3 linked regions of the Homo sapiens genome follow. The protein of the gene in region 2 purifies or fractionates together with the protein of the main gene of each other region. This does not show direct contact. Each region holds a gene or a part of one and is shown on either strand. Other genes may lie near its edges.

The links.
Region 1: the proteins of PRIM1 (region 2) and KCNJ5 purify together in Homo sapiens (affinity purification with mass spectrometry; one large-scale study listed by BioGRID and IntAct). This does not show direct contact.
Region 3: the proteins of PRIM1 (region 2) and QPRT purify together in Homo sapiens (co-immunoprecipitation; one large-scale study listed by IntAct). This does not show direct contact.

Annotation. Positions count from the first base shown.
Region 1 is NC_000011.10:128,889,788-128,894,198, reverse strand, and holds the start of KCNJ5 (G protein-activated inward rectifier potassium channel 4), read right to left. Parts: upstream 2,844-4,411; 5' UTR 2,478-2,843; intron 1-2,477. UniProt on the Homo sapiens protein: Inward rectifier potassium channels are characterized by a greater tendency to allow potassium to flow into the cell rather than out of it.
Region 2 is NC_000012.12:56,731,060-56,735,448, forward strand, and holds the end of PRIM1 (DNA primase small subunit), read right to left. Parts: intron 3,187-4,389; coding exon 3,088-3,186; intron 676-3,087; coding exon 656-675; 3' UTR 521-655; downstream 1-520. UniProt on the Homo sapiens protein: Catalytic subunit of the DNA primase complex and component of the DNA polymerase alpha complex (also known as the alpha DNA polymerase-primase complex - primosome/replisome) which play an essential role in the initiation of DNA synthesis.
Region 3 is NC_000016.10:29,696,039-29,699,203, reverse strand, and holds the end of QPRT (nicotinate-nucleotide pyrophosphorylase [carboxylating]), read right to left. Parts: intron 2,212-3,165; coding exon of another isoform or gene 2,209-2,211; coding exon 2,077-2,208; intron 2,006-2,076; coding exon 1,793-2,005; 3' UTR 505-1,792; downstream 1-504. UniProt on the Homo sapiens protein: Involved in the catabolism of quinolinic acid (QA).

The sequences.
Region 1 (4,411 bases), on a different chromosome or scaffold from region 2:
GAAAAAAAAAAAAAACAATGCAGAAGTGGATGCAGTTTTCAAGTACATGAAAGCACAGGACACCTGTTTGTGGCTTCGCCCACCGCAGGCAGGAAGAATCAGGTCATTTGAAGGGGAAATGGAAACCAGAGAATGGGCATTCTAGTCGTTTCTTCCCTCCTTGGGGGTTTACTTCATCACGGATGACTAGAGCAGCCTTCAGAGTCTCCCAAATTCCTGGACAAGAAACCCAGTCAGGTGCTTGCAGAAAGCCCCAAAGGGATTTTGCTTGGCACCAGGGACAGCGAGGCTGAGTACTGCTGTGACAGGGCCACACACGTGTCTCTGCTGGACCCACAGACAAAGAGCTCTGCACTGCTCAGGACTTGCCAGCAGACTCCAGGGAAGCCATGGTGGGGAACCCCACTAAGATCTGACTTCATCCCAGAGAAGACAGCTAAGCTTTGGGGACAGCCCTGGGCAGAGTGAATGTGGCCCAGGTTCGCTTTGACCCCCCCCCTCACCCTTGGCTCCTCCTTTAGCTGAACTGCTCACTGGATAGAGCACAGGCAGGCTACTTAAAAAATGCTGCCTGTGAGTAATGCCGGCAGTTTATAGCAGCTTTTGGAGAGGCCAGAAAACAGCCATGCCTGAGTGGCTGGTTCCCTTTCTGTTGGAGAGCTAGGTAGTAGGTCTAGAACGTTGTTCTGGGGACAATCCTTGTGCTTTGTGGAATGTATAGGCAAATTTTCTATCCTTTCTTTTTCTTTTTTATTTCTTTTTTTTTTGAGATGGGGTCTTGCTATGTTGCCCCAGTTGGTCTTGAACTCCTGGGCTCAAGTAATCCCCTTACCTCAGCCTCCTGAGCCAGCAATTTCTCTATGTGTTGTTTCCTGTCTTTCAATGGTGGCCCTGCTGCTGCTCTTCCAAGAAGCACATACGCTGTGCCCCAGGCCTCCCACTGAAGGCCTTATGCCTCTAGGCAGAATGGTGCCATCTCAGGTGGGGTCCATAGATAGTTTAAAATACCAGCCAAGCTGACCAAACTCTTTATGCCAGAGTCCAACCATGGGCCTCTAACTCCCACATCATTTGCTCTGCCCTGTTCGTTCCTCAGATTCCAGGAAGCCTGAGCGCCTCATTCAGCCAGATGATGCAATTTACACCTGGCTTTGAGGAAAAGCAGGGATGTGGAAAGACAAGAGCAGCTTTCAGAATTAGCTTTTGTTAGTGGAAAGACCCTGGATTTAAAGCCAGAGGACAAGAGTTTTGGAGATAGCAGTGCTGCTGCCACTTAGTGCCTGGAATTCTGTTACCCTTACTCTCATCTATAAAACAGAAGAAATAAGCTCTGCCCCACAGGACTGGTGTCAAGATGAACTCATGTAAACGTATATAGCTCGGCACCTTGGTTTCATAAATATTAGCCTTTTCCTCACATGGAAAAGTGCTTTGAGAACCAGAAAGCCCGATAAACCATATGGCTTTTGATGAAAACGAGGCACATTTTGGAGTCAGATATAGGAGAGAATCTCCCTTTATGAGCTGTGCACCTGAGGCAAATTGCACAGCCTCTCTGGGCTTCAATTTTTCACCTGTAGAATGAGGATGATAATCTCAGCTTATTAAAAGGATTGAAACAGAGTAAAATACTTGGCGTGTTCCTGTTGATCTTCTTCTGGTGTTTGAAAAGGCTCCTGGAACAGGTTTTGGGCTGGTGTTGCTCACCCTGATGTTCAGGGTAGGCCCTAGAACTTTGGGGGCCGGACCTGAGGCCCTCCACAGCCCCTGGGGTTGGAGAGCCCTGTTTGAGGGAAGGCACAGATAAAACCAGGGGGCCAACAGCTCTGCAGGGAGAAGCACTGACTTGAAGAGAAGGGGAGCAATGACAAGGCCGGCCTTCTCTGTTCCCTATCCTCTGTCCTCACAGGCTTGACCCCTGGCCTTTCTGAACCATTTGAAAGCTCTTTAAAAGGAGATAGGGAGGTACGCAGGAAGTGACTTGGGCAGCGAGGGGGGCAGAAATCACAAGGCCGTGTTTCCAGTTTGGCCACACTTAAAAGAGAAAGCAAGATTAGGCTGGGGATCTAAGGCTGAGGGGGGCACCGCCCCCCATCCTGGCCCTCCCTGCTCCCATTTGAAGGAAGAGTCCTACCAGGTGAAAAATGTCCTCCACACCCCACCCACTCCTGGCCACTGTTGCCTCTCAAACCACTGCTGGGAGATCTGGGGCACCCCCAGGTAGCCCTGGTCTAGTGCCAGAAGTGAAGGTGTTTATGGCTGGGCTCCCAACGCACAGGGCAGCCTGCAGCCACGGAGATCTCCAATTTCCTAAACTTGGACCTGCCCTAAGCTTTTCCTTATCCCCCCTGGCTCCCAGTCTAGCAGGTTCCCTGTGAAAGCCTGCTGCCCAGGTGATGGACACCTGAGGGTGTCATCCTGCCCTCCAGAACCCGCGAGCTGGGGGAGAAATGGAGGAGGAAAAGAAGACAACTTACTTGTTGAGATCGGAGCTTCCGAGTCCCACTGATGCTAACTTCTGGGGTGTCCCTTAGCGGCGGTGCAGGGGGGCTCAGGGCTTTTGAGGGGACTCCCCAGCCCCTGCCATGACCCCACGGAGGAGCTGTAGCTGGAACCTCTCCCTGTTGTGGGGTCCTGTGGGCAGAGGTACCTAAGCCATCCTGTCCCTTCACTCGCGGCCCCTTGGGTCACTCCCTTTCTCTAGCGAGAGCAGCTGGAACAATCTCTCTCTCTCTCTCTCTCTCTCTCTCTCTCTCTGTGTGTGTGTGTGTGTGTGTGTGTGTGTGTGTGTGTGTGTGTGTCCCCTCCTCCCTCTCCTCTCTCCCTCCGTCCCTGGTACAAATGAATCTCTGGGTAGTAACGCGACTGGAAGGGCCACCGGCGTTGGCGGCGGGGGGCGGGCTGGGGTGGGGCGGGGGCTCCATGTGATCCGGGACGCCGTCAGCTCGGCAGGACTGGGAGGGAAGAGGAAGGCGGAGAGAGAGCCCGGCAGGCATCCAGCCCTCCGCTCGCGTCCCCGCGGCCCCCTGCGCCCTCCCCCGGCTCCCCCTGCCCCCGGCTGCACCCCTGCTGCGGGGTGCCAGGGACGGAGACCCGCGCGCGCGCGTGTGAGCGTCCCATGCCTGTGTGTGAGCGCCGCGTGTCACGCGTGTCCGTGTGTGAGCGCCGCGTATTTAGTGGGTGCGGTGGAGCAGACAGAAAGAAGGGAGAAACTATTAGGGCAGAAATCTTGGCTCGGAGCCTCGGCGGGGCTGCTCAGTCGCTCCGCGGTGCGCTAAGCGGACGGTTGGCAGCATTTCGCCGTTTCCCGAGAGGGATGGAGCAGATGGGGGGATTCCTTTGGGAAGGCGGGGGAGCCACAGTCTGGGCGCTGCATCCCCCGCCCGACGGCTCTGATTCCCGCCGTGGAGTGAGGGTCCGGGGGCCTGATCCGCCAGCTGCAGGGGGAGTAGGTCCAGGGACAGGACCCAGGCTAGCTGTCCCCGGGCTCGCTGCTCACCCCGGACGATCTCTCCCCGGCGTGCGGCGGCGGCTGGGCGGCGATGGCTGGAAACGCGCCCTGCACGGACAGGAGGCGGGAGCAGCCCGGAGGGAACGGAGCTCAACCTTGCCCAGGCGTGGGCAGAGCCGGCGTCCTCCGCGCCACCTCCCGGCTCTCCCTTTTGGATTCCTACCTGCCTTGAGGACAGATGATGACCAGAGTGTGTTCTTTAATTCGTGGAAGCCGTAGGAAAGGCAGCTGCCAGGGCAGGCTGAAAGGGAGGGCTGCTGTCTGGGGAGGGCCGGCAGGTGCCTCTGAGGACCGGTCTGTTCGGGGTGGCCCTTCTCACCCGGTGGTGTTCCTTCTGGCCCCTCTCCGTTACCCAGCCTTTTGGGGTCAACACCCCCCCTGCCAGCCCCCTCTCTCAGGGCAGACACAGCTGGTCAAACGTGGGGTGCCCTAGCACCTAGCACAAGTGCTAGGTGAATGATGTCTACGACCAGAAAACTGGTTTATTACGTTGCAATGAGAAAAATGCTTGTCACTAATACTGGAGGGCACCAAGTCCATCCTCTCCTGTAAGGACAGTGACAGGGAAACTTAGTCTCTAACAGTGGCCTGGGGGTCCTCTTGCCTCGGAGACCAGCGTACACACAGCCCGTTGCCCAGGCACCCTCCCCTGGGACAGAGCACAGAGCGGTCCGGCCAGAGTGGGCCTCCTGATTGCCCCTCTTCTCTCTGTAGAGGGGGTGATTGTTAAATGTGGCTGCAACAGGCCCTAACAGGAAAGCTCTGTGTCCCCTTAGGGGACTCAGCTTGCCTAGGTGCTCACGCACTGCACCATATGTTGTTTGACCTCAGGGCTTAACACTATTGTGGAGAAAGTTCTTAATTCCCTAATTGCCTAGTTCTTGGGAGAGGCTTTGGCTG
Region 2 (4,389 bases):
TGAGCTGAGATGACAGTCCTATTACTGCTCACTTACCTCTATATATGGCAACTAGTAGAACTGGGTATTTATATCAGAAGCCTTAGAATTATCCTTGTAGAATATTGAATTTTACAAAATTATCTGCAATCCACTTATGCCTCCTTTTATTTCTCCTTCCAGGAACCTTGACACTCTCCTTGGTCGTCTCAGGAAATCTTACTTTTTTTTTTGTTTTGTTTCTTTTTTGAGATGGAGTCTCGCTCTGTCGCCCAGTGGCTGTGATCTCAGCTCACTGCAACCTCTGCCTCCTGGGTTCAAGCAATTCTCCTGCCTCAGCCTCCCAAGTAGCTAGGATTACTGTATGCACCACCACACCCGACTGATTTTTGTAGTTTTAGTAGAGACGGGGGTTTCACCATGTTGGCCAGGCTAGTCTCGAACTACTGACCTCAGGTGATCCGCCTGCCTCGGCCTCCCAAAGTGCTGGGATTACGGGTGTGAGCCACTGCACTTGGCCAGGAAATCTTTTCAACATAAATTATTTCTCAAGGAAAATTTACTTTGAGGTTTAAGACACATATATAGTTCTGCCATATTTATTAAATGGCTCTTGAAGTATTTGATCTGTGGTTGAAGGCAGAAGATATCCACAATGGTTTGAGGAGCTCTGTCTTCAGAAATCTTTTTGTAAATCTAAAATAGAATAGATAATATATGGAAGAACAGCAAAGGAAACAAAACAAAGCCCATTTACTTTTACATTCTTTTTTGCCTAATGCTTCTATTTAACACACATCATGCACAAAGATTTGCTTACACATTTGCTGAAGTCCACATCATAGGCTGAGCTAGTATGGAACAGTGAGGATACAAAGGACTTAATACGGCCAGTTGCAATGGCAGCTTCAACCAGGCTTTCCAAGCTCAGAGTTGTTGTTCATCCAATAATCACACATATGAGTGTCTACTGAGTAGAGCATTATCTTAGGCACTACTGCTTAAACTATCACATATTTAAATAAAAAATGAAGTGGCAAGATAATTTGTATTGCTATAACATTGTCACAGTTTTCTAGAGTAGCCTTCATCTCTTGAATAATATTCAATCTGCTGATTTTTTTCATATTGGCTTATACATATGCTCATATGTCTCCCATTTAGAGTACCCTTCATTTGACACTGCTATCCTCTTTGTGTTTCTTTCCAGTTATTATATGCAGCAGGATTTTATTAGTTTCCTACTGTACCTGACACTTGATAATCTTGCACTTTTCTTTCCCCTGGCTTCTATAACATTTTCCCTTCCATCTTTCATCTCTTCACTTCTAAATCATTAGCAAGTCTCAAGGATGGTTCCAGTATTTGCACCTTTCGGAGATCTCCAGTGCTACTGTTCTAGTGGCAATAGCGCAGTTGGCCTCTTGGGCTCTATTCTAGTCCCTGTCTTGCCCAGATTTATCTTTCTAGATAAAAACTACAAATCATGGCATTCCCTTCCTCAGAACTTTTAAAAGCTTCCTATTAAGCCCAAAACCAAGCCCAAACACATAAGCTTGGAATTCAAGGCCATTCAGTTTGCTTCTTTGGATTTATAGCCCATCACTTCTGGACACACCATATACTAGATTAGCTGTACTACTTGATGGCTTCCAGAGTAACTGGATGCTTTCCTGTCTGTCTTTGCTCTTGATGTTCCTTCAAGAATGAACAACCCTTGGCCTTTTTCCACCTCCATACCCTTTATCTTATCATATTTCTGCTTGTGGAAATCCTTCTCATACCTTATGGTATAGTATATTGGCATTAGGGATTAGAAATTTTTTTTTTTTTTGAGATAGTGTCTTGCTCTGTTGCCCAGGCTGGAGTGCAATGGTGCGATCTTGGCTCACTGCAACCTCCACCTCCCAGCTTCAAGTGATTCTCCTGCCTCAGCCTCCCAAGTAGCTGGGATTACAGGCGCACAATACCACGCCCGGCTAATTTTTGTATTTTTAGTAGAGACGGGGTTTCACCGTGTTGGCCAGGCTGGTCTTGAACTCCTGACCTCAGGTGATCCACCTGCTTTGGCCTCCCAAAGTGCTAGGATTACAGGTGTGAGCCACCGTGTCCGGCCTAGGGTTTTTTTTTTTTTTTGAGACGGAGTTTTGCTCTTGTTGCCCAGGCTGGAGTGCGATGGCACAATTTCAGCTCACTGCAACCTCTGCCTCCTGGGTTCAAGTGATTCTCCTGCCTCAGCCTCCCTAGTAGCTGGGATTACAGGCTCCCACCACCACACCCAGCTAATTTTTTGTATTTTTAGTAGAGATGGGGTTTTACTATGTTGGCTAGGCTTGTTTTGAACTCCTGACCTCAGGCGATCCACCTGCCTCAGCATCCCAAAGTGCTGGGATTACAGGTGTGAGCCACTGCACCCGGCTAGGGATTAGAATTCTTACAGCAGCTACACTGAAAGGAGTTCAGATACCACCATTTTCATATGAAATCTCAGAGTCCATCAGATAAAATCTCTTTCTTAGCATTTTGTACTTTTTTTTTTGTATTAAGTTAGTACTTCTTTTTTTTTTTTGAGATGGAGTCTTGCTCTGTTGCCCAGGCTGGAGTGCGATGGTGTGATCTCAGCTCACTGCAACCTCTGCCTCCCCGGTTCAAGCGATTCTCATGTCTCGGCCTCCTGAGTAGCTGGGATTACAGGTGCCTGCCACCACGCCCAGCTAATTTTTTGTATTTTTAGTAGAAACAGGGTTTCACCATGTTGGCCAGGCTGGTCTCGAACTCCTGACCTCAAGTGATCCAACTGCCTTGGTCTCCCAAAGTGCTGGGATTACAGGCGTGAGCCACCGTGCCTGGCCAAGTTAGTACTTCTTAAGGGCAAGGAGGCATGATGTTAATTCATCTTTGTCTCCCTTATAGACCTGATACTTAGAATGTGTTTAATAACTATGTGTTAAATTGAATTAAGGAACCTCAATTTCCAAAACATTAAGGATAGTAAGATAAATCTGTAAATTTTGGGAGGAGGGCAAAGAAAGACTAGAACTCAAAAATTGCTCATTTCTACTAATAATAAGATCTAACTAGATAGAAGGGAAAGGCATAGCGTCTTACCACTCTTCTTAAGAAGTTCTCCTTTTCGGGATTTATCCAGATTTTCAAGAAAATGTTCAAAAACTTTCACATAAGGTGCTAGACTGGTCTTCTTATAATCTAAATTATGAAGAATGTACATTATAATTAGCATACTGGCAGCAAGAATAACATGAAAACACAACTAAGTTTCTTATAAGAATTCTCTAGGGCTGCCCAATTGAAATATGAGAGAAACATACATACTTTTAAATACTATATTAGTCACATTAAAAAAGGTGAAATTATTACTGAGACAGGATTTCACTCTGTCATGCAGACTGAAGTACAGTGGTTCCGTCTTGGCTCACTGCAGCCTCGATCTACTGGGCTCAAGGGATCTTCCCATCTCTGCTTCCTGAGTAGCTATAACTACAGGCATGTACCACCATGCCCAACCAATTTTTTTTTTTTTTTTGGTATTTGTAGAGACGAGGTCTCACTCTGTTGCTCAGGCTAGTCTTGAACTCCTGAGCTCGAGTGATCTCCCAGCCTCGGCCTCTGAAAGTGCTGGGATTACAGACACATGCCACCATGCCCAGCTAAAATATTATTTTTGCATGTAATAAAAATTGAGATATATGATACTCTCTTTCATACAAGTCTTTTATATTTATATATATATATATAATATATATACATATATTTTCTTTTTTTTTTTTTTTGAGACAGAGTGTCACTCTGTTGCCCAGGCTGGAGTGCAATGGTGCGATCTCGGCTTACTGCAACTTCCGCCTCCCAGGTTCAAGCAATTCTCCTACCTCAGCCTCCCGACTAGCTGGGATTATAGGTGCCCGCCACCACAATGAGCTAATTTTTTGTATTTTTAGTAGAGATAGGGTTTCACCATGTTGGCCAGGCTGGTCTCAAACTCCTGACCTCATGATTCACCCACTTTGGCCTCCCAAAGTGCTGGGATTACAGGCGTGAGCCACCGCGCCCGGTCCATGCCTTTATTTTTGAGTCTTGCTCTGTTGCCAGGCTGGTATGCAGTGGTGCAATCTTGGCTCGGGAACCTCCGCCTCCCGAGTTCAAGCGATTCTCCTGCCTCAGCCTCCTGAGTAGCTGGGACTATAGGTGTGTGCCACCATGCCCGGCTAAGTTTTTGTATTTTTAGTAGAGACGGGGTTTCACCATGCTGTCCAAGATGGTTTTGATCTCTTGACCTCGTGATCCACCTGCCTCAGTCTCCCAAAGTGCTGGGATTACAGGCGTGAGCCACCGTGCCCGGCCCCATGTCTTATTTTTGAGACACTGTCTTGCTTTTTTGCCCAGGCTAGAATG
Region 3 (3,165 bases), on a different chromosome or scaffold from region 2:
ATTTCTGGGTTTAGGGGGAGCTTAAGACTCAGGCAGGCAGGTTCCTTTCGCTTTTTTAATGGAACGCTGTGGCTGCAACGAGCATTTTCCAGTTGGCCACAGCGCACCCCCACTTTGTCTTATTCCAGTTCCACCCATTTATTTTATCCGAATAGGTCCTGGAGGCACCGAGTTTGCAGCTCCTGGTACCCTCTCCTCACTTCTGCTCTGTCAGGCCCCAATGCCTGCCCAGATCCCAGATCCCAGTTCCCAGATCACCCCGGGGCTCAACTTTCCTCCCTTGATGCCCAGTGGAACCCCTGGTCCCATGGGGCTTCAGTTTCCCCAGTTCAGGCATAAGAAGCTGGGGTTCATCTGAGCGTGTCCATGTTCCCCCTGGAGGAAGGACGGGAGCAGGCAGGGTGGAGCTGGGATTAGAGGGGACAGGGCAGCTGCAGGTGGCACCTCTGGGCTGTGTCCTCTTGTAGCAGGACGAGCCACAGACAAAACTCCTCAGGCACCGGATTAAAGAAGGAAGAGGTTTATTTGGCCAGGAGCATTGGCAGACTTGCATCTTAATAGCTGAGATCCCTGAAAAAGAAATTCTTGGCCTTTTTAAAGGCTTACAACTCTAAGGGGTCCACGTGAAAGGGTCATGATATCTCAAGCAAGCGGGGAACGTGACTGGGGGCTACACGCATCAGCTAACAGAGCAGAAAGTTTTGCAATGCTTTTTCATACAATGTCTGGAATTTACAGATAACACAAGTAGTTTAGGTCAGGGGTTGATATTATTATTATTGTTACTTTTTTTTAACTACCAGGGCCGGGTGGTGTCGCCAAGGTCTTCTGGCTATTTATCTTACTTCTGTTTTGTTTTGTTTTCTAACTTTTTGCTTTCTCTCTTTCCTCCTGTCTTGTAAACTAGGCAAGGTGGGGGGAGGAGGGCAGCAGGAGTAGTAGTGGTCTCCTTCTTACTGTGGGACTGGCCCCTTTGGTTTAGGGTATCACCAAAGGCAGTGTCTAGGCCAGCCCAGTGTCTCTGCCCAGCAAACCTCCATCTGCTGTGCACTCACAGCCAGGCCATGCTGGTGTTTGGTACAGGTTGGGTGCATGAAGGATGAAGGTTTTGGCCTGTCTGGGGCTTTTGCCTGCCTTTCTTCCTTTCTTTCCATCCTTCCTTTCCCTCCCTCCCTCCCTCCCTCTCTCTTTCTCTCTTTCTTTCCTTTGTTTCTTCTTTGGAGACAGAGTCTCGCTCTATCACCCAGGCTGGAGTGCAGTGGCACCATCAGCTCACTGCAACCTCCACTTCCTGGGTTCAAGCGATTCTCCTGCCTCAGCCTCCTAAGTAGCTGGGATTACAGGCGCGTGCCACCACACCCAGCTAATTCTTCTATTTTTGGTAGAGATGGGGTTTCACCATGTTGGCCAGGCTGGTCTCAAACTCCTGAACTCAAGTGATCTTCCCGCCTCAGCCTCCCAAAGTGCTGGGATTACAGGTGTGAGCCATCGTGCCCGGCTGTCCCAGGTAACTTCTGACATTTGCTGACCCCTCACTATGTGCTCATTATCACCGCAGAACCCCATGTGGTTGATCCTTTATTAGACCCATTTTACAGATTAGGAAACTGAGATGAGCAGAGGTGAAGTCAGCCCTGACAGGTCACAGGAGCAGCAGGTGGCAGAGCCAGAGTTGGGCTCAAGCTAGTGCCAAATGTGCCCCATTGGCCACTGACCCTAAAGATGTGTGACCCAGAGGGTCCTGAGGAGCCACGTTAACCCATGGCCGGTGTCATCCTCTTCCGGTTTAGGACTAGTGGATTTTGGGCACTGGAGCCACCTCTTTGGCAAACAGCTTGAGGGAGAAATCAAGGGCTGGGGCCGCCTGGGTCAGCATCCCCATGGAGATGACGTCTATGTGCGGCCCGCAGAACTGGGGGAGGTTGTCCAGGGTGATGCCCCCACTGGCTTCCACAGCCACACTCGGGAACTGGGCCTTCAGCACGGTGGCCGTGGGGTGCAGCTCCTGCGGGACACAAGCCAAGGGGAGGTAAGAGCCCACCACAGATCCCTCCCCGGAGGCAGAGCCCACCTTACCTCTGGCTTGAAGTTGTCCAGCAGGACAAGGTCGGCACCAGCCTCAGCTGCCTGCACGGCCTCCTGCAGGCTGCTGCATTCCACTTCCACCTTCAGAGTGAAGTCAGCCGCCTGTCTGGCCGCCCGCACCGCCTGCTGGGCAGCCGGGAGGACAAGGGTGAGGACTGGGCCCAGCACCTGGCACTGGGGCGCAGGGAGCCGGGAGGGCGAGGGTGACGATAGGGCCCAGCACTGCAGCTGGGGCGCGGGGAGCCGGGACTGACATTTGAAAAGCTTCGGGTGGACCATGAACTTGGGGTTAATAAGGAAACCAGACTTTGGGGTTGTTTTTGCTTTGTTTTGTTTTTGAGACAGGGTCTCAACCTGTCGCCCAGGCTGGAGTGCAGTGGTGCAATGATAGCTCACTGCAGCCTCTACCTCCTGGGATCAAGTGATTCTCCCACCTCAGTCTCCCGAGTAGCTGGGACTACAGGTGCGTGCCACCATGCCCAGCTAATTTTTGTATTTTTAATAGAGACGACGTTTCACCATGGTGGCCAGGATGGTCTCTAACTCATGACCTCGTGATCCACCCATCTCAGCCTCCCAAAGTGCTGGGATTACAGGCGTGAGCCACCGCACCTGGCCACTGTTTTGTTTTTGAGTCAGGGTCCCGCTCTGTCGCCCAGGCTGGAGTTCAGTGCAGTCATAGTTCACTGCAGCCTCCACCTCCTGGGATCAAGTGATCCTCCCACCTCAGCCTCCCAAGTGGCTGGGACTACAGGGGCTTGCCCACAAGCATGGCTAATTTTTTAATTTTTTGTAGAGACAGAATCTTGCTATATGGCCCAGGCTGGTCTCAGACTCCTGGACTTAAGTAATCCCCCCAACTGGGCCTCCCAAAGTGCTGGGATTACAGGTATGAGCCACTGAGCCAGGATGTTTTATTGTAGGTTAAAATGACCACTTTTGTGGGTCAAAAAGTGGATGAATATCAGCAATATTTGGCATTTGGACCTGAGCTCAATTTGACTCAGAATATTAAAATTAGAAGGGGTGTTTAAGGGCATTTCACAGATGGGAAATAAGGTGCAGAGGGCTAGAGAGATG